Regions from separate parts of the Homo sapiens genome. Here regions 1, 2 and 4 are each linked to region 3. The links come from fine-mapping of genetic effects on gene expression. A gene starts in region 3. Each other region holds a variant in brackets. All regions are shown on one strand. Distances are between the middles of the regions.

Evidence for each region.
Region 1: its variant is fine-mapped to the expression of CDS2 in whole blood (INTERVAL, PIP above 0.99). The same link has a PIP of 0.9 or more in monocytes after Pam3CSK4.
Region 2: its variant is fine-mapped to the expression of CDS2 in cerebellar hemisphere (GTEx, PIP above 0.99).
Region 4: its variant is fine-mapped to the expression of CDS2 in blood mononuclear cells (TOPMed, PIP 0.99).

What each region holds. Positions count from the first base shown.
Region 1 is chr20:5,160,366-5,165,512 of GRCh38, forward strand. All of the region lies in intron 1 of CDS2 (CDP-diacylglycerol synthase 2), which reads left to right. Among named protein-coding and RNA genes, the nearest start is that of CDS2, 36 kb to the left of the region's middle. The variant G/A (reference allele first, on the strand shown) is at 2,199.
Region 2 is chr20:4,156,078-4,161,224 of GRCh38, forward strand. The region is part of intron 1 of SMOX (spermine oxidase); the gene reads left to right. LOC124904861 (a long non-coding RNA gene) reads right to left here. Exons shown (of 2, transcript XR_007067504.1): 2 at 2,486-5,147. Among named protein-coding and RNA genes, the nearest start is that of SMOX, 9.8 kb to the left of the region's middle. RefSeq lists enhancers at 1-31, 1,560-2,060, 4,687-5,147. The variant G/T (reference allele first, on the strand shown) is at 2,096.
Region 3 is chr20:5,124,866-5,130,012 of GRCh38, forward strand. CDS2 (CDP-diacylglycerol synthase 2) reads left to right here and starts at 2,143. Exons shown (of 13, transcript NM_003818.4): 1 at 2,143-2,284. The coding sequence starts at 2,228. It also overlaps a transcript of PCNA not described here. RefSeq lists a silencer at 1,632-2,551 and enhancers at 1,814-2,315, 2,892-2,981.
Region 4 is chr20:5,186,143-5,191,260 of GRCh38, forward strand. It overlaps CDS2 (CDP-diacylglycerol synthase 2), which reads left to right. Exons shown (of 13, transcript NM_003818.4): 10 at 545-697; 11 at 2,925-3,044; 12 at 3,593-3,696; 13 at 3,960-5,118. The coding sequence ends at 4,092. Among named protein-coding and RNA genes, the nearest start is that of CDS2, 62 kb to the left of the region's middle. RefSeq lists a silencer at 4,408-4,477. The variant A/G (reference allele first, on the strand shown) is at 2,678.

The DNA of each region.
Region 1 (5,147 bases), 36 kb after region 3:
AGGTGGTGTTGGGGGTTCTAGCCCCCTCCTCACAGTAGTAGGGGAACCAGAGTTTTGGGGAGCCTTAGCAGTTTTCTTCCTGGTTGCAGGTTGGGGTGGATACAGCTGTTAGACTGTCTGCATTGTCCAGTATAGTAGCCACTAGCCACATGTGGCCAATTAAACCTTTTCTTACTGTGGCTAAATATTATATATATCATAAAATTGATAATTTTAACCATTTTCAAGTGTATGGTTCTATGGCATTGAGTACGTTAACATTGTTTTGCAACTGTCACCAGAACAAACATTCCAGAATATTTTCATCTTCCCCAAATGAAACTCTGTACCCATTAAACAACTCTCCCCTCTCACTCCCCCAGCCCCTGACAACCACCATTCTATTTTCTGTCTCTACGAATTTGACTACTCTAGGTACCTCATGTAAGTGGAATCATATATTTGTCCTTTTGTGTGTGGCTTATTTCACTTAGCACAATGTCCTCAAGGTTCATCCATGTGGTAGCATGTGTGAGAATTTCCTTCCTTTTTAAGGCTGAATAATATGCCACTGTATATGTATACTACATTTTGTTCATTCCTTTGTTGATAGATACTTGGATTGCTTCTACTTTTTTGTTTATTGTGAATAAGGCTGCTATGAACATGGGTGTACAAATATCTCTTTGAGTCCCTGCCCTCAGTTCTTTTGGGTATATACCCAGAAGTGGAATTGCTGAGTCATGTGGTAATTCTATATTTGATTTTTTGAGGAACTGCCAGGCTGTTTACTATAGCAGCTGCATTATTTTACATTCTGACCAACAGTGCACAAGGGTTTCAGTTTTTTCACATCTTCTCCAGTACTTGTTATTTTGGTTTTTCTTTTTTCTTTTTTGAAAATAGCCACTCTAGTGGATGTGAAGTGTGTGGCAGTTTAAATTTAATTAAAAATAAATACATAAATTCACTTCCTTAGTCTCGCTAGCCACATTTTAATTGTTCAATAAGCCACACACAGCTGTGGCTCTCATATTGGACAGTATAGAGAGAACATTTCCATTATTGCAGAAAGTTCTATACTGACAAAACCTGGAGGTAGCAGTGGACCTGAAAGGGATTGATCCAAGCCCAGCAGAGTCCCAAGGATTCAATCAATTGATAACTGACACATACATTGAGAGGCAATCCATTGATAACTGACACATACTTTGTGTAAGTAGTATAATCCAGTATAGACATAGTTTTATATTCTGCCTTTTTCATGTTGCTGCACGGTGTTTATAGTAGTCTTGTTAATAGCTGCACAGAAAGTTGATTTACCGTAATTTACCTAATAATTTTTCCTTGTTAGGGACATAAAACCAGTTTCTCCTTTTCAGTACTGCAGTAGAGTATGCTCATTTCCCAGTTGTCTCCAGGCCTAGCCCTTCTGGTTTCTTCATCTGTTCATTTTATCGTCTTGCTCTTTTTTGTCTCCTTACTGTTTTAACCACTCTATTGGACGTACTTGGCCTCTAAGTAAAGTTTGACTAACGCTAACTAGAACCAGACCATGCCTGTGTTAATATAGCCTAAAATGCCATTAGCTATTTTTGCTGTTTGAACTGCTTGTACCATCTTGGGTCAAGTGCCTACTCCAAAACAGTCAAGGTGCACATTGCCTTAGGCTGGGGTAAATGCCTGTTCGTGAACCTATCACTGTGGCAGAGGGGCAGAATTAAAAATAAGTAGACTGTACAAGCTGCTGTATACCATGAAATAGTTTATGGATTTTTAGGAGGGAACCAACTGCAGTGTCCAGTACCTGGGGGAAGATAGGGAGATAAGAATTAAGGGTCGAACATCCCAAAATCAAAAATTTGAAATTTTCAAAATCTGAAACTTTTTGAGTGCCAATGTGATGCTCAAAGGAAATGCTCATTGGAGCATTTTGAATTTAGGATTTTCTGATTAGGGATGCTCAGCCAGTAAGTATAATGCAAATATTCCAAATTCTGAAAAGAACTCTGAAATGCAAAACACTTCCGGTCTCAAGCATTTTGGTTAAGGGGTATTCAATCGCTACCTCTCAGGTTTCTGGCTTATGCAGGGTATATAGACTCGCATGCTGTCAACTGATTGACTAGGCAAGACTTCAGGATCAGTAGTTTTACGGACAATGTCAAAAGTGTTCTGTTTAGATGTGTTACTTTTGAGATGCCTGTAAGAACTTTCTC[G/A]TGGAGATGTCAGTAAGTGGTTGGAAATATGAATCTGAAGCTTGGGGGAGAAGTTGGGGTTGGAGATACAAATGTTGGGGTCATTGGCATGGAATTGGTAATTAAAGCCAAGGGGCTGGATGATGATACCTAGGGAGAGAGTGTGGTAGGTCCAGAACTGAGCCCAGGGCCCATTCAACATTTTGAAGTCAGGTAGACTTCAAAGTCACAGGAGACTGAGAAAGAGCAGCCAGTCAGGTAGAGTGAGAACCTGATAAGTATGGTATGGAGGTAGCTGAGAGGAGAATGTTTCAAGGAGGAAATGGTCAACTAGATCTGACATTGCCAAGATATATGATAAGATGAAGGCAGGGGAATCTGTCTGATTTGGCAGCATGGAGGTTGTTTTATTTACTTATGTTTGAAGATGCACTTTAGTCTCCAGAGCCTAGGGAGATCATACTGAGGCCACATTGACTTTTCTTTGCTGGGGTAATGGATATTTGAAAGTAATTTGATGGCCAGGTACTGTGGCTCATGCTTATTCTCCCAGCACTTTGGGAGGCCAAAGCGTGAGGATCACTTGAGGCCAGAAGTTCGAGACCAGCCTGGGCAATGTAGAGAGGCTCTTTCCTTTTAATTACTGGTTTTCAAAAAAAGATTTGGTGTTTCAGCACCCTTCAGAGGTGGCCAAAGTAGTTTTTTTTGTTTCGTTTTTATTTTTATTTATTTTTTTGAGACAGAGTTTTGCTCTTGTTGCCCAGGCTGAAGTGCAATGGCTCCATCTCAGCTCACCATAACCTCCACCTCCCGGATTCAATCGATTCTCCTGCCTCAGCCTCCTGAGTATCTGGGAGTACAGGCATGGGCCACCACTCCCTGCTAATTTTGTGTTTTTAGTAGAGACAGGGTTTCTCCCTGTTGGTCAGGCTGGTCTCGAACTCCCAACCTCAGGTGATCCACCCGCCTCGGCCTCCCAAAGTGCTAGGATTATAGGCGTGAGCCACTGCGCCTGGCCAGTAGTTTCTTACAGTTATCATTATGAACTCATAAATTTTCATATACTTGTGTTTAAATCACTTTTTGTTTATTATTTTAATGCTCAAATTGTCCTATCGTTGGCCATTAGGAATGTTTCTTCAAAGACTTTCTCATTTTCAATTTAATTTTTTCCCCAGGTATCCTTAGTGATTTATCAAAAAGAGAAAGAAACTATTTAGCATTGTGGCTTTCATAATTTCTTTCTTTCTTTTTTTTTTTTTTTTTGAAGCAGAGTCTAGCTCTGTCGCCCAGGCTGGAAAGCAGTGGTGCAAACTCGGCTCACTGCAGCCTCTACCTCCCAGGTTCAAGCAGTTCTCTTGCCTCAGCCTCCCAAGTAGCTGGGATTACAGGTGCCCACCACCACGCCTGGATAATTTTTGTGTTTTTAGTAGAGACGGAGTTTCACCATGTCGGCCAGGCTGGTCTTGAACTCCTGACCTCAGGTGATTGCCCACCTTGGCCTCCTGAAGTGCTGGGATTAGAGGCACGAGCCACCGCACCCACCCCATAATTTCTTCTATAACTAATATGACACATTTGGGATTGAGAACACTGTTAATTCCATGTTCTTCAAGGGAGAAACATACTAGTTTCTCCCTTGAATAGTTACAGTCTATTTGATTGGTACTTGATTCCATGATGGTTGGTTATAAACCAGGAATACTACAAAAGTGACAATATAATGTTCCAATATGGTAAACAGCCCCAGGGTGCTTGTCTGCCCACAGGAGTAGGGGAGGTTGGGGCATGAGACACTGGGGACATTTGCTCTCATGTCTACTTATTTTGTCTAGGAATCTTTGTAGAAAACACTATTGTGAGGTGAGTGACAGTGAAGCAGGTACCAGATGGCGATTTATGATTTAGGGGCTCGTCGCATGTGGAGCCCAGCAGCTGTCCTGGTTCTACTTCCTGACAGAGGTCTGGGGAGCACACTTGAGCCCAGTTTTGAGATTGCGAATATATTTTTCTTCTCCATCTTACTAGATCTTTTGGCAGTATTAGACATACTCCCTCCTTGGGAGAGCTTTATCTTAATAAACTGAAAAAAAAAAAAAATTCCTTCCTTCCCCAGTAGCGCTGAAAACTCATTTTCCCTTAAATACTAAATAGAGATGCCCGACTAAGGAACTGATAATAGAAGGACCCGTTGGACTCCAGTGGGGCTTCTGATTTTTGGTGTCTTTCCCCTAACCCTGGAAGACAATAGGAAAACAAGTGATGTCATCGGAACAGAGCCGTTGGCAGAGCCTCCTGGGGACCTGAGTGGTTTTCTTGTCTCTGATAGTCTCTGTTCTGAATTAAGTAATGGCTTGTGATGGAGGTTGGTACTTCCTGCAGCTATTTCATATTTATAGTCATATGCTTGCTGTTAGTAAACAGATGCATCTACTCCAGAAGGAGGCTTCAATGGGCAAGGTGGGAGAGAGTGTTGGGAGAAAGGATTCCTGGTCATTCCTTGTCACAAAAATTATGGGTTTAATGTATGAGACTGGCAGTCATGCAGAGGTTGGGACTCAGTACAACTGTACGTATTTGAGTTAGAAAGCCTTGCATTCCTAGAAGCTGGATTTCAGACAGGATTTCCTCATCCTTTCTGAGACATACAGATTCTGTACTTTTTTTGGAAACCCCCGTATTGCTTAGGATACATTTGGCCACAAATGTCTAAGAAGAAGGGGAGATAAACAGTGGGACAGCTGGCTGCAGCCCTAAAATGCCTCCTCTAGTGCTACTGAGTGCAAAAATGAATTGTCAGCCTACGCGACATGTAGCCCAGCTACACCTGCCACTTCAGCAAACCCTGGATTCTCTCAGCATCATTGGCTCTGGCTGCCTCTGCAGATGTGGTTCTAGGTGCCAGGCCAGGTGCTGGGGGTACAGTGGTGAGGAAGTCAACATGGCTCCCCCACAGAGATGATGGTCTCG
Region 2 (5,147 bases), 970 kb before region 3:
CAAATAAGGGTAGAAACTGGCAAATTCACTCCACTACCCTACGGGAGATTCAGAATACATTTAAGAGAATTAAAGGTCCTGACAAGTCCTGTAGAAAAGAAACTGTTTAGTGTTTCCCAGCCTGATCTGACCGTGGAAATCTTTTTTTTAAATGACTGCCAATAATGTCCCACCCACCAGGAAAACACCTGCTGGGAAAAGCTGATGTGGAAAGATGCTGCTCACTGGAAGGCCACGAACATGGTAGCACAGGTGGACTTCCTGGTAGAGGTAGACTTGGTGGGATGGGCACATTTGGACAATCAGTAGAAGAAGAGGGCACTGCAGAGAGAGAGATGCCAGGCTCCCCTCTGAGGCCTCAGTTTCTTCATCTGTAAATCTTTGCCCCCCATGTCTGCCTCCCCACCTTCCTTTGGGTGTAGCAACTGCTACCCCCCTGCCAGTGCCTGGTGGGACCTCAACTGACCAGGGCCCTCAGATGTGCCCATCCCACCTCTACCAGGAAGCTCCCTGCCATCCTTCCTTTTCTCCCTGGTATTTCTGGGCCGAGAGCCAGCCCTGGGTTCTTGTGGCAATGGCTCTGCCTCACTGGGTGAATGAGGAAGGATCTGGAAGGACCTGTCTGGTGCCTGGGATCCCCAGGTAGCTGGGCCTGGGTCTTCTGGATTCTTTTTCTTTTTTTTGAGATGGAGCCTCACTCTGTCACGCAGGCTGGAGTGCAGTGGCGCAATCTCAGCTCATTGCAACCTCCACCTCCTGGGTTCAAGCAATTCTCTTGCCTCAGCCTCCCGAGTAGCTGGGATTACAGGCGCTCACCACCACGCCCTGCTAATTTTTGTGTTTTTAGTAGAGGTGGGGTTTCACCGTGTTGCCCAGGCTGGTCTGGAACTCCTGGCCTCAGGTGATCTGCTCACCTTGGCCTCCCAAAGTGCTAGGATTACAGATGTGAGCCGCTGTGCCCGGCCATCTTCTGGATTCTGAGAGGGCCTTTTCCTTATACCTCCCGGGCATTTCCTCGCTTTGCAAGTTCTCCCCAGCCTTTCATCTCAGAGGTTAACACAGCAGGGTTGTGAACTCTGGACAATAAGCTAAGCCTCTCTGTGCCTCCGTTCCCTCATTTGTACCATGAGGGTAATATTACCTCCCTCCTAGGGTGGCTGGGTTGTTGTGACACTCTAATACCGGTTGGCTGCTCTTACTACTGGATTTGACATGGCTGGAGGAGGGACCCTGGGGAGGGCCCTGTCATCGTGGACATGAGGGAAGAAAGCAAGAGCCAGCAGAAAGCGGCACAAGGCTTAGGTTGGGGTCCTGGTTAGACCAGAGTAGCCTGCAGAGGAGAAGAAAGAGGGTGTGGGTAGCTAGCAGGACTGGCTTCCTGGAGGAATGGCCAGTTAGGTGGGGAGATCTGGACAGAATGAGAAGTCACAGGTTTGAGTCTGAGAGTCAGAGGATCCTGGTGGGTGTGTGTAGGGGACAAGTGGCCTGCGGGCAGGGAGGAGGCATCAGGGACTACCTTCGTTCACTGGGCTGTGGCAGCCCACAGAAGGTTTTGAGCAGGGCAGTGATGTGATCAGAGCAGTGCATTAGTGAGACATGAGGCAGGGTGTGAGTGATGGTGGGCTGTGGGAGGGGGCGGTGCTGTGCCCCTTCATGGACATGAAGCTGGGGGAGGGGCCAAGTTGCGGACGTGACCCTCATTCTCAGACTCTCAGGGCAGTCAGTGAGGCTACCCTGCCTCGCCTCTGCCACACCTCCTTTCCTCTGTGGTGTGAGGCTCTTTGTTCAGCAGCTCAGGTGGGGGAGATGGGCTGTGGTATTTTTTATTTTTTATTTTTTTTGAGTTGGAGTCTCGCTCTGTCGCCCAGGCTGGAGTGCAGCGGCGCGATCTCGGCTCACTGCAACCTCCGCCTCCCGGGTTCACGCCATTCTCCTGCCTCAGCCTCCCGAGTAGCTGGGACTACAGGCGCCCGCCACCACGCCCGGCTAATTTTTTGTATTTTTAGTAGAGATGGTGTTTCACCTTGTTAGCCAGGATGGTCTCGATCTCCTGACCTCGTGATCCGCCCGCCTTGGCCTCCCAAAGTGCTGGGAT[G/T]ACAGGTGTGAGCCACAGCGCCGGTCGGGGTGTGGTATTTTAAATACCCAGGAGGAGCTACGGTGGTGCGTGGGGCAACATTGGCCCTCCGACCTGACCCGAAGGCCCTGGTGGGGCATGCTCAGTGGATTTTCCTACCCAGCCCTAGCTCCCCTCTCTTGTCCTCCTTTGCCCCTTTGTCTTTCTTCCTCAAGCATGTAGGAGCCCAGTGCTCTCTAAATCTGGGGCTGGGAGGTTGGAGGATGAGGAAAAGCATCTGGATTCAGGTGGAGCATGGTGGCCTAGCTGGGGGCATTGCAGCACCCCTTAGTCCAGATTCCCTTCTTCTCCACCTGCTTCTTGAGGGACGGCATTAAGGAAGGTGTGACTTAAAGTCAGAAGAACAAGAACTTGGAAGTGAGTTGCAATTTATTAGAAAACAGAACAAAGAATCTAGCCACCCCTGCCAACTCTGTGCTAGGCCCTGGCAGACACATGGGTCCTGTCTTCCCCATGCAGCCCCGGGGGCCTGAGTGAGGCATGATGGGTCTCACTCAGTTTCTGGGACATCTGTCTCGATGCCCTTTCGTCAACCCCATGGCTCTCTCAGAGCCTGTCCTCATACCTTCAACTGCTCCCCACCCATAACCAGATCTCCGGGACAGCCCAGCTCAGCCAGCGCACCTCTGATCCTGGCGGGTGGTGGTGATACTCCTTGCAGGCTGAGTTGGCTAGATTTTAGGATGACTCAAGCAGGAGACACCCAGCACCACCAAGGGGCATATATTCTTAGGAAATATTTTTAAATGATGCCTTTAAATGTTAAACACACAGGGACCTTTTACTCTCTCTTATTTTGGAAAATTAAAAAAAAAAAATCATACACAATGCAAAACCTTGAGAGTTAATCTGAAAAGGTTTGGAGTTTAAAAAGTAACTCAAGGAAAGATAATGAACTTGACTTCTTCATTAGATTTTTTTTTGTTTTTGAGACAGAGTTTCACTCTTGGAGTGCAATGGCGCGATCTTGGCTCACTGCAACCTCTGCCCCCTGGGTTCAAGCGATTCTCCTGCCTTAGCCTCCCAAGTAGCTAGGATTACAGGTGCCTGCCACCACGCCCGGCTAATTTTGGTATTTTTAGTGGAGACGGGGTTTCACTATGTTGGCCAGGCTGGTCTCAAACTCCTGACTTCAAGTGATCCGCCCACTTCGACCTCCCAAAGTGCTGAGATTACAGGTGTGAGCCACTGCGCCCAGCTGCTTCTTCATTAGATTTTAAAAAGAGCAAGGCCTGAGGCTTAATATATTACTAAGTAAAATTTAGAGGCAGGCTGATAGCAGGCTGTGGAACCTCTCTGAATCTCAGTTGCCTCCTCTGTACTATGGGGGTATTGATGTGAGGATTGAGGTATTCCACACAAAATGCTTGGCACTGCACTCTGTATCTCAGGTGTATTCAGCTAAAAATAGAGTGATAACAATGATGATAGGATTTTAAGAACAGACCTTTCTTGATGCTTCAAAAGCTAGTGAGTTATTCTCTCTTTGAACTCCACAAAAGGGCCTAAAGAATATGTTTATGTCCAAACTCAGCGTCTCCACTTCATAGGGGTCTTATGGATGAAATCATGGGCGCATGGCCCCTGTGTGCATTCTGAAATGAACCCCAGTGGCTTTTGAGACCTGGTTCCAGCCCTCGCGTGGGTGGGGGACTGTGCTTCATGGTTGAATTCTATGGAAAGTGCTTTATTGGTTAATCCTGTGGTCTTCTTAGGAGAGCACAGTTAATGTACCCTGAAGTCACCAGGAGGGGAAGGTCTCGGGCCAGTGATCGAGGACCGTCTAGAGGCAGTTATGAGTTACTTGCTTTTTGAATTTTCTTTTGTGCTGGCCAATGCAATTAGAACTTGTCCCTGGCCCTATTTATGGAGGAGGAGATCGAGGGTGAAGGACTGAGGCCTGGCTAGTTTAGTGCCTGGCAAGCCTAATCCAGCTGCATGGGGCAGGGAGACCAGGGTGACCTGCAGGGACCCCACTAAGCGCCCAGGCCAGAAAGCAGGTAGCTTCCCGGTGGCAGCCCCAGGCTTTGGCAGTGAAGCTGGAGTGAACCATCAGGCCTTGAGATGACTCCTGCCAGCCCCAAGTGCCTGGCACAGTGTGTGCATATCAGTATGTGGGGAGGAGTAAGATGGGAGAATCGTTGAGCCAGGGCAGTCCTCGGGCCTGCCGCACCCCTGGGGAGGCTGAGTAGGGGGGCCTGAGGTCGGAGCAGGGATTGAGCAGTGTTGCCCTGCCCTGCCCCTCACTCCATCCAGGTGGCGTCTGTCATGCCTCTGAACCTCTTGGGGCCTGTTTCCTCATCTGTAAAATGGGCAGCAGAGAGTTTATGAGTATTAAAGGATGCAGTGAATGGAAAGTGCCCAGCAAAGGGCCTGGCACAGGAGGGGCAAAATAGAGGTTTGCTGTGAGGTTCATCTGGTGACTCGATTTTTCTTTGGATATTTTCCTTTTTTCGTTTTGTGATCATGCATGCCACCTTGGCTCTATGATAAATTACGTTGTGTGGACACCATAAGAGAGGTATTTGTGCTGGAAAAGGGTTTACAGTGGAGGAAGGCCCGTCTCCACCTTCAGGGAGGAAGGCTGCCTGGATCCAGCACGGCTCAGACAGCTCTGACACTGGGGCTGTCGTGTCTCTTTGTGGGCAGAAAGCACAGGTCCCAGGCTGGGCAGAGTGGGACCCTGTGGCTCAGGAGGCAGGATGGGCTTGCCGGAGACCCCACCCCCTCCCCGGGGCTGGAGCTGAAGCACAGTTGGGCTTTGTGCAGAGTCACGAGGGGCCGCTGAGGGGGAACTGCGCCCGGCTGAGCTCACAGGCCTCAGTTCTTGTAAGTGGTTTTGAAAGAGTCAGCGGAAAGTGCTGACTGAGCTGTTCTCCTTCACCCCAGAATTGTGAGGCTGCGGCTCCTGGCAGGGATAGGGGAGAAGCCCCACCGGGAAGCCACCCCCTCAGCTGCCAGCTCACACCTCCCAGGTGTCAAGTGCCCAGGCTGCAGAATGGGTGGATCTCTG
Region 3 (5,147 bases):
CATTCTATAATTCTGACTTATGTGCATTGATTCTCCAAGCCTCCTTTTATTAGGCTGGATTTGAAAAGGAGCAGCTGAGTTTCTAGAAGGACTGACATGACACTCACTTAGATATGACCTTTCATACCTACGTGCCCCTGAAGGTGAAGTTCTAGACACTAACATCTTCACCTGTCTTAGAAGATCATCTTGCTCGAGTGCTGTGGCTCATGCCTGTAATCCCAGAACTTTAGGAGGCCTATGTGGGAGGATTGCTCGAGCCCAGGAGTTTAAGACCAGCCTAAGCAATAAAGTGAGACTTCATCGCTACACAAAAATTTAAAAGTTAGCTGGGTGTGGTGCTGCACACCTGTAGTCCAAGCTACTCGGGCATATACTCATATAGAAATCAGGAATATATAATGCTGTTTTCAGAATTCTCACTACCTGCCCCAAAACTCACAGCTCAGGTCAAAATTACCAATAGGAAATTTTAGCCAGGCATGGTAGCTCATGCCTGTAATCCCAGCACTTTGGGAGACCTAGGCGGGAGGATCTCTTGAACCCAGGAGTTCAAGACCAGTCTGGGCAACATAGTGAGACCCTGTCTCTAAAAAAAGGAGAAATAAATTAATTAAAATTTAAAAATTGAAAAGAAGAAAAATGTAAAATTATATTTTTTTAAAAAACGAAATTGCAATTCTTTTGTGTGCAAGTGTCTCATTGTGAGATTACAGTATGCTTAAGTTGGGGACGCAGTGTTATATGTGTTTTACATCACTTACAGGGCAGTGAATAGAAAGAACAGGAAACACCAAAGGCAATGCTGGAGCAACACAAGTATTAATAAATGCAGGCAGGCAGTATAGTATGGTGGTTAGAGTGTGGGCTGGTAACAAACCTGTTTGTGTTCTAATTCTTACTAGGCACTTTCTAGCTGGGAGACCTTGGCTAAGGTCCTTTTAAAAGTTTTAAATCCATCCAACAAGTACTTACAATGGATGTGTCAAAGACATAGAGGATGCACAGTAAACAAAGTAGACAGCACTTCTGTCCCAAAAAAGGTCTTTCCATAGTCCAGAAGACAAATTTGAAAAACTGAGGAAGGGCCAGGCTCGGTGGCTCACGCCTGTAATCCCAGCACTTTGGAAGGCGGAGGCGGACGGATCACCTGAGGTCAGGAGTTCGAGACCAGCCTGACCAATATGGTGAAACCCCGTCTCTACTAAAAATACAAAAGTTAGCCGGGCGTGGTGGCGCGCACCTTGGAATTGTTTGCGCCCGGGAGGCAGAGGTTGCAGTGAGTCGAGATCATGCCACTGCACTCCAGCCTGGGCGACAGAGCGAGACTCCGTCACAAAACAAACAAACAAACGAACAAACAAACAAACCACTGAGGAAGATCTTAACTGTAAAATTCAAATCATACCCACTTCCAAGCCATGTGTGGATTAAACGAGATAAGCCAACTAAAGCGATTACTCAGCTCAGTGCCTAGTATACAATTAGTGCTTAACAAGTACTAGCGACCGCTTGGCAAAGCAAAGCAGACTGAAGCGTGGGTTTCATTTCTCATCATGTGATAAGTGATAAAATGCTCTTAACCAGGTCGGCTCACCTGGCCTTTCCATTCGACCTAAATAACGTCTACTTACTTGCGTAAGGGAAGAGCTCTGGCCCAGGTCAGCAAGCATTTGTCAGGCTAGAGCCTCCGGGTGGCGCTTCTCGCCCTCAGTAACCGGTTACCTCCAGAACCAGGGCGCCAGCTCCGGCCATCCGCGGTTAAGCGGGAGCTCCCATTGGCTAATCGCACACTGAAACGCACGCCTTTTCCCGCCCCTGACGCTGCCGTCCAATGCGCGCCTCTCGACTCTGCTCCGCCCCGCCCCGCCCCCGTCGCCCTGCCTCCCTGGCGTATTTGCGCCATTGGTGGATATTCCGGACCGTGATGGTGGCGCTGCGCGTGCGCACTCGCTCCGAGCCCTGCTCCCGGGAGAGGGAGCTCTCGGGTCGGGGCTAGGGAAGGCTGACCCCGCTCGGCCCGGGTGAAAGGGCGGTGACGGCACTGGGTGGGGCCGAGCTCCAGGGCTGGCTGCTGGGCTGCTAAGGGAACTGTGAGCCGCTCAGAGCCGCGCGCCTCCCGGGCGGGGCGGGGCCGGCCGTGGGAGTCCGCGCGTGCCCGCGCCGAGCTGCCTGCTCCGGCGGCTTCGCTGCTAGCTCGCGGCGACGTCGGGCCGATTTTCCCAGGATGACAGAGCTGAGGCAGAGGGTGGCCCATGAGCCGGTTGCGCCACCCGAGGACAAGGTAGCGGCAGCGTCGGGGTGGGCGCGGCCGGGACAGCGGCGCATCCGGGAGGCCTGCGGGGGACGCGCGCAGAGGGGTCGTCTTGTTCTCTGACCCTTTGTCGCAGCCGACGGCGGCCCCGGGCCCGGGTAGCGCGAAGGGCCCTCGGGTGCCCGGCCTTCGCGGCGCGCGCGTCAGGGGTCGGCGGGTCGGGGTCCCGGCTCAGGGTCTGACTGAAGTGGCTCCCCCGGGGCGCAGGAAGGAGCTTCTCGGGAGTGGCGCACGGCCTCCTGCCTCGCTGGGCTGGCTGCGGGGACTCCCCTCTCCCCCAACTCCGTGAGGCCTTCCTGGAGGTGAAGATATGCAGAGCCTTCTTAGGGAGGCGGCTCCTCTGAGCGCAACTTAGGCTCTCCGTTCCCTTTTACAATGTTATTATTTTGGGGGGTGGGGGAATCAGGACAAGGCCATAGCATTTGCCTCCTGGGAGATGTAAATCCCTTCTTGGGCATGAAATCATCGGCTTTGAGCAAAGGGGTGTTACCCAGTGAGCCAGTCCGTCATCAGCAGGTGTTGGAGGGCGTCCTCCCGGTTGATGGGTTGTTTCCTGCACCGTGTGGGCTCTGGTGGGTAGGGGAGGAGAGTAGGAAGGAGGCCATCTTGGCGGGGACAGTGGCGGGGGTGACGGGTGGGGGAGTGGACTCCTTTGGGTGAAGTGAAAGATCTGTGTAGGGGAGTTAAGGAAGGTAGGGATTGGTTTTATTACTGTGGAGGTTGAATGGCAGTATAGGACTTTGTAGCAGTAGTTGTGCTTTCCGAGATAGCAGTGATCAGGAGCCCTGTGTTTGGGAAACTGATCAGACAGTGATGTGTAGAAGGGACTGAGGGAGCCTGGACCAGACTGAGGGAGCCTGGTTCACTCGGGATTGCCCATGAGTGACCTGTAGATGTTTTCTTTGGCCCACATATTGCCTTAAAAATCAGAAAGTTTCTCCTAACAATCTAAATTTCTTGCCTGTCTTAGATAATTGGAGGGTCCACCATCACTTTGTCACCTGCTCAATGGTTGGCTGGAGCTGAGGATCATCGGTTCCCACCAATCCCTGTTGCCTTACACCAGGCTCACGGCTTCCCCTAATGCAGCCTGTAACTTTTTGATGACTGGACGCAACGGACATTAGGGAGACACCCAGAAGGAAGAAAGCACAAGATTTGGTGACAGGATGTCAACAGAGCAGTTACACTAGGAGGAATGTTTTTGGTGAAAGATAATGAGATCATGGGTTTTTTTTAAACAACTTTCGTGTTATTGCAGTTGACAGTGGACTATCCAAAGAGAACTGTTCCTACCGATTTTTAGAACATATATTTTGGCCAGGCACAGTGCTGCTCGCCTGTAATCCTAGCTTCTAGGGAGGCTGAGGCAGGAGGATCGCTTGAGCCCAGGAGTTTGAGACCCTGTCTCAAAAAACAAAAACAAAAACATATTTTGGAGAACATTTAGGGCTGGGGCTGAGGATTTAGCAGTCGCTTGCAGAGACAAGATACTTTGAAGTCTCTAATTTTTCATTTGGCTATCCTGGTTCAGCCTGAAAGAATTCTGACTTACCTTGTACTACTAGTTGGTGAGTATGCAGATGTTTGGAGGCTCTGTAGCTCTGTTTAAGGGTGAGATCATGCTTGATGTTAGTGGGACTTTGTGGACCTAGAAGGTGTGAGGAGAGAGAGAAGAAAGAAGGCATGATAGCTGGTGGGCCATGTTTTTGAAAAGCTAACTATGTACAATAATTAGAATGTCAAAAAACAACCTTGGGATTATGAGATGCAACATAAAGATTCTACCCTCCTTCCCGGACTCGTTGGATCCATCCCCCAGAGATAAAGTGCGAGTTGAACCGTCTTACTTTCACATCCTGTACTTTAGACTGGGAGGACCTGAGGAGCTGTCCAGCTAGAGGTGCACTTATATCACTTATACAGTGACAGAATGCCTGGGGTCATGAGGTCCACTTGTGGCGTGTTGTTTCCTAAAAGACAGCTGCTATGCACTCTGTTAAAAGCCTGATGTTCATTACCGAGAACAAGACAATCAGTTCCTCACCCCATTATTCAGAACTTCTCAATTGTCACTGAATTGTCATGTATGGGATTTTATTATTATTATTTTTTTAGACGGAGTCTCTCTCTGTCGCCCAGGCTGGAGTGCAGTGGCACGATCTCAGCTCACTGCAACCTCTGCCTCCCAGGTTCAAGCTAGTCTCCTGCCTCAGCCTCCTGAGTAGCTGGGACTATAGGCATCCGCCACCACGCTCGGCTAATTTTTTTTTTTTTTTTTGAGAGGGAGTTTCGCTCTTTTGCCCAGGCTGGAGTGCAATGGCATGATGTTGGCTCATCGCAACCTCTACCTCCCAGGTTCAAGCAATTCTCCTGCCTCAGCCGCCCGAGTAGCTGGGACTGCAGGCGTGTGCTACCATGCCCGGCTAATGTTGTATTTTTAGTAGAGGCACGGCTTCTCAATGTTGGTCAGGCTGGCCTCAAACTCCCAACCTTAGGTGATCCTCCCGCCTCAGCTTCCCAAAGTGCTGGGATTATAGGCATGAGCCACTGTACCTGGCGTTTTTTTTTTTGTATTTTTAGTAGAGATGGGGTTTCACTGTATTGGCCAGGCTGGTCTTGAACTCCTGACTTCGTGATCTGCCCGCCTCGGTCTCCCAAAGTGCTGAGACTACAGACGTGAGCCACCACACCTGGCCATGTTTGGGATTTTTAATAAGGGAACATTTTAAAAACTGTGAAATCTATTATTTGTCTTTGAATGTATATAGTAAACTTTTGTTTGTTGGTTTGTTTTTTTGTTTTTTTTTGAGACAGAGTTTCGCTCTTGTTG
Region 4 (5,118 bases), 61 kb after region 3:
CTCCTATGTGTGCCTTGCCCAGAGGTGGGTGATTTTCCTGCCCTTTCCAGAGCACCATTCTCTGCTTCTGACCCTTGGGCCAGTCCTCCTTCTTCAGCACTGTCTGGCTGCCCTTCAGTGCTCACCGCCCAGCTTTGTTGCTTTCCAGCCTTGTTCCTCCTGAGATCTGCCTCTCACTGTGCCCCTTCCCCATGGCCTCTCTCCAGTTATCACTGACTTCAGAGATCTTGAGGAAAGTGGTCCTAGCTCCCCAAATGGGGAGAGTCTTCTTGTAGTTCTTTGCCCCAGTCCCTTCAGGTTTTCCCGGATTCTTTCGGGGCCTGGGTGTTTGGGTTCCTGTATGTAACCTTGGTGGGTCATGAGCCTCTTTTTTTTTTTTTAATTGAGGTAAAATATGTATGGTAAAACATGAACCTCTGAGCACATAGCTCGCAGTTAGCAGGGTACTAGGCACCCTCAGGAACATGGCCAAACCAGGTGCCTGTGTCTGGGCTGGATGGTTGGAACTTACTTCCTTGCCGGTCTCTCTGTTATTCCTCCTCAGCTGTCCTATGTGATGTCCGGGTACAGATGCTTTGTCTGCCCTGTGGAGTACAACAATGACACCAACAGCTTCACTGTGGACTGTGAGCCCTCGGACCTGTTTCGCCTGCAGGAGTACAACATTCCTGGGGTGATCCAGTCAGTCATTGGCTGGGTATGTGCCACTCACAGGGGGTGAGCGGCCTCCATGGACAGTGGCTACAAAGAGAGATCCCCCTCCATCACCTGCCCTCTGAAAAAAGCTAGCTTCCTCCTTCCCAAAGCTGTAAGCCCCAGGATGAAGGAGAATTGCTCACGCCAGGTCAGGGTATGGGCAGGACAGCTTTCCCCCAACATCAGATTGTTTAGACCAGTGGTTTTCAAAGTGTGTTCTGTGGATCCCTGGAGGGCCCTGGGATCCTTTTAGTTGCGGGGGTAGGGTGGGGGGGTCTGTGAGGTCACAACTGTTTCATAATTAGACTATGACATTATTTTCCTTTTTCAATGTGTTGACATTTGCTGTGATACGGCGCAAAAGCAGCAGTGGTTAAAACTGCGTTAAGGCAGTGGGTTCCTCATGCCACACACTCACAGTACAAACAGGCCAGTTCTAATGAATGTCTATGAAATAGTAAAGTTACTAATTTTGTTAAATCTTGACCTTTGTACACACACCTTTTTAACACTCTCTACTGAAATGGAAAGTATGTGTAAAACATTTCTGCTAAGTACTGTAGTACAGTGCTTGCCTAAAGGGAAAGCATGTGTGCAGTTGTTTGAGTTGTGAGCTAAATTAGCTGCTTTTTTTTTAGAAAAGAAAGTAAATTTTACTTGGAAAGAACCAACAAATTATAATTTTTCAGACTTGGGTATTTGGCAGACATTTTTCTTGAAAAGGATGAAGTGAGCCTATCACTTTAAAGAAAACAACTGAGGCTAGGCACAGTGGCTCACACCTGAAATCCCAGCACTTTGGAAGGCCGAGGCAGGCAGATCTCTTGAGGTCAGGAGTTCCAGACCAGCCTGGGTAACATGGCGAAACCCCGTCTTTACTAAAAATACAAAAAAATATAGCTGGGGATGGTGGCGTGTGCCTGTAATCCCAGCTACCAGCTACTCAGGAGGTTGAGTTGCTTGAACCCAGGAGGCGGAGGATGCAGTGAGCCAAGATCGCACCACTGCACTCCAGCCTGGGTGACAGAGTGAGACTGTCTCAAAAAAAAAAAAAAAAAGAAAAGAAAAATGACTGACAGTAATTGTTACCAAGGATAAAATTTGGCTTTCAAATGAAAATTAGAATTTTGGAAAGCTTAACCTGCCACTGTGAACTTGACAGCTTCCTAATACTTAAAAGCCTTTTCTGATGAGGTCTGTGATGATTCTTAACGTACGTGTGTGTGTGTGTGTGTGTGTGTGTTGATCACATGAGAAAAAACACAAACATATTTGACACGGTATAATGAAATGTGTCTACATTTGGAAGATTTACATAACTCAGTGAACCATTATTTTCTAAATGGCTGATGCATGGTGTTATATAGTCATGCATGGGTAAAAGATCCGTTCAAGTATAAGATAGACCAATGGATTTTAATGTAAGAGAGAACAAAGTCCATTGATAGAATTCTAGATTCCATATCACACCTAATATTCAAGAAATGACTACTTGTCAAGCTCTGGTGTAGTGTCAGAGAATACCCAAAACCATCTGAGGCTACGACTAAAATACTCTTTTCAACTATGTATCTGCGTACGGCTGGATTTTCTTTATATACTTCCACCAAAACAGCATGTTGCAACAGATTGAATGCAGAATATTTTAATGTTTTCCATTAACTTAGATATTAGAAATTTACAAAATGGGAAAAATTCACTCCTCTTATTGATTTAAAACCTACATGTATATAATTAGTTTCATAAAGAGTTACGAGGTTGGATGTCTTGGTCTGTCTAGTGTTGATAGAACACTTGGGGCTGGGTAATTTACAAAGAAAAGAGGTTTACTTAGCTTCTTTCTGCAGGCTGAGAAGTGTGAGAAGTGTGGCATTGGCTGCTGCCTGGCTTCTGGTGAGGGCTTTTTATGCTGCATTGTAACATGGCGGAGAAGGTCAAAGGTGGAAGCAGACACATGCAAAGAGGCAAAACCAGGGGCTTC[A/G]TCACTTCATAACAACCCATTCCCTCGGGATGCCAGTGCTAATCTAGTCTCTTGACAGAACTCACTACTAGGAGAAAGGCACCAAGCCATTCATGAGGGATTTGCCCCTGTGACCCAAACACCTCCCACTAGGCATCACCTCCCAGTGAGGCCACAATGAGGATCAAATTTCAACATGAGTTGACAACTCAAACCGTAACACTGGGCATGTATGCACCTAAACTTTTACTTCATTTACTCTTCTCAGAAAACGGTCCGGATGTACCCCTTCCAGATTCACAGCATCGCTCTCTCCACCTTTGCCTCGCTCATTGGCCCCTTTGGAGGATTCTTCGCAAGTGGATTCAAACGAGCCTTTAAAATCAAAGTAGGAAAACCGTCTTACGTTCCTCTCATCTCACTCCCTCACCCATCTTCTGCCTTTCTCCCCCTTCCCTGCCCCCTCCAAAATACTAGGCTGTACACCCTGGCATTTAATGTGTGATCTTGACCCATGCACTGAATTTAGGTGAGTTAATTAATAACAATATTTTCAGGAAAATGCAATCGTTGTTTTTCAGTTTATTTGTTAATATATCTTTCTTCAAAAGAACATTTTGGGCCAGGCAGTGGCTCATGTCTGTAACCCCAGCACTTTAAGAGGCCAAGGCGGGAGGATCACTTGAGGCTAGGAGTTAGAAAGTAGCCTGAGCAACATAGCAAGACTCCTGTCTTTATTAAGTAAATGAAATAAGAACATTTTGTAATGCAATAAAATTGTGTCCTAATATAGCCTCACCATTAGATTTCATACTTCTCACCTTCTATTGCCCTCAGCTACTCAGCACAGAAGCCTGACATTGGGGTGGGACCATTAGGCTGGGATTGGTTAGTGGCTGAGCCCAAGTTCACCCATCCTTCCCCTGCCTCTAACAGGACTTTGCCAATACCATTCCTGGCCATGGAGGCATCATGGATCGCTTTGACTGCCAGTATCTGATGGCCACCTTTGTCAATGTATACATCGCCAGTTTTATCAGGTATAGTACCTTTCCATCTGAACCAAGTTGGTGGATTTTTAAGTACGGTGCAATTCTAGAATTTTAGCGGCATCTAAGTTCCAGTGAAAAGCATCCCAAATAATGCAGTTTTCAGTTGTTTCTGCTTACAGATTTTCTGAGGCCTCCTGTCATCTGTTAATAGATAACTCTCTGATCCAGAGATCAGAGCAGCCACTCAGATAATCAGGCCCTGGAAGCTTCCGGGCCCTAGCTCAGTGCTGTTTCTTCACATTCTGTTCCAGAGGCCCTAACCCAAGCAAACTGATTCAGCAGTTCCTGACTTTACGGCCAGATCAGCAGCTCCACATCTTCAACACGCTGCGGTCTCATCTGATCGACAAAGGGATGCTGACATCCACCACAGAGGACGAGTAGGGGCCACCCAGGGCCAGGAGAACAGGAACAGAACTGAGCAGGGGCAGGTCTCCAAGGCAAGCCCAGCTGGTGTGACTTAGACAATGACGAGGCTTCAACTCACTGTCTTTTTTTTTTTTTTTTGGAGGGTATTTTTTATTTGTGGGTTCAAAAAATCTGTATATACAGTCTATGTGTTTAGAATTTGTGTTGTAAGTAAACTACAGCTTTGAGTTGGAAAGAAGTCACGGGTTGTAAAACCATTTGGATTTTTTTAAAACAAAAGTATTAATAATCTGGAAGACAGTGTTGCCCAGGTCAGGAGTGTTTTCTTGGTGGTTCCAGCCCCCATCAATTGAACTGTTTCTGGGCTCAGTCAGACACAGACATTCATCTGTGTCTGACCAAATCAGGGGACTTCCCCACCTGTGGTGGGAGGCACAGCTTAGATGTTTTGTACACCTGGTCTTTTCTAGAAATCCCTGCTTGGAGCTGCAGAAGGGTTGCCTTCTGTAGGTCGGAGGAATGGAGGCTTACTAACCAGGTAAGCCTTCTATGCATCCACACCAAAATCCTGCAGAATGTAAGTAAGCTCTGCTTTATAAGATGGGTTCACCTTCATCGCAGACTGAAAGTTTCAGTTTTTATTTTTTTCAGAAAGCACGAAAAATTATTTATAATAGTCTGGAGAAAAAACACACTGTAATATTTCAAGTGTATGCAGTAGAATGTACTGTAACTGAGCCCTTTCCCACATGTCTAGGCTCCAATGTCTCCTGTAGGTCCACCTAACTGTGTGTTTTCAGGGACAATGCCATCCATGTTTGTGCTGTAGACTTGCTGCTGCTGAATCCTTTCTGGGGACTTTCTCATCGGGCAGGGAGCAGAGGGCTTCTCGTTCATGCACCCTTTGCCTGAACACCCATGTAGCTGCTGTGTTGTGTATATATTACTCTTAAGAGGAGTGTGTGTGTCTGTGTTTGTTTTAAAAGTCACTTATTTCTTACAGTGATTTCAATTGCACCATGACTTCTTCACTAAAACCAC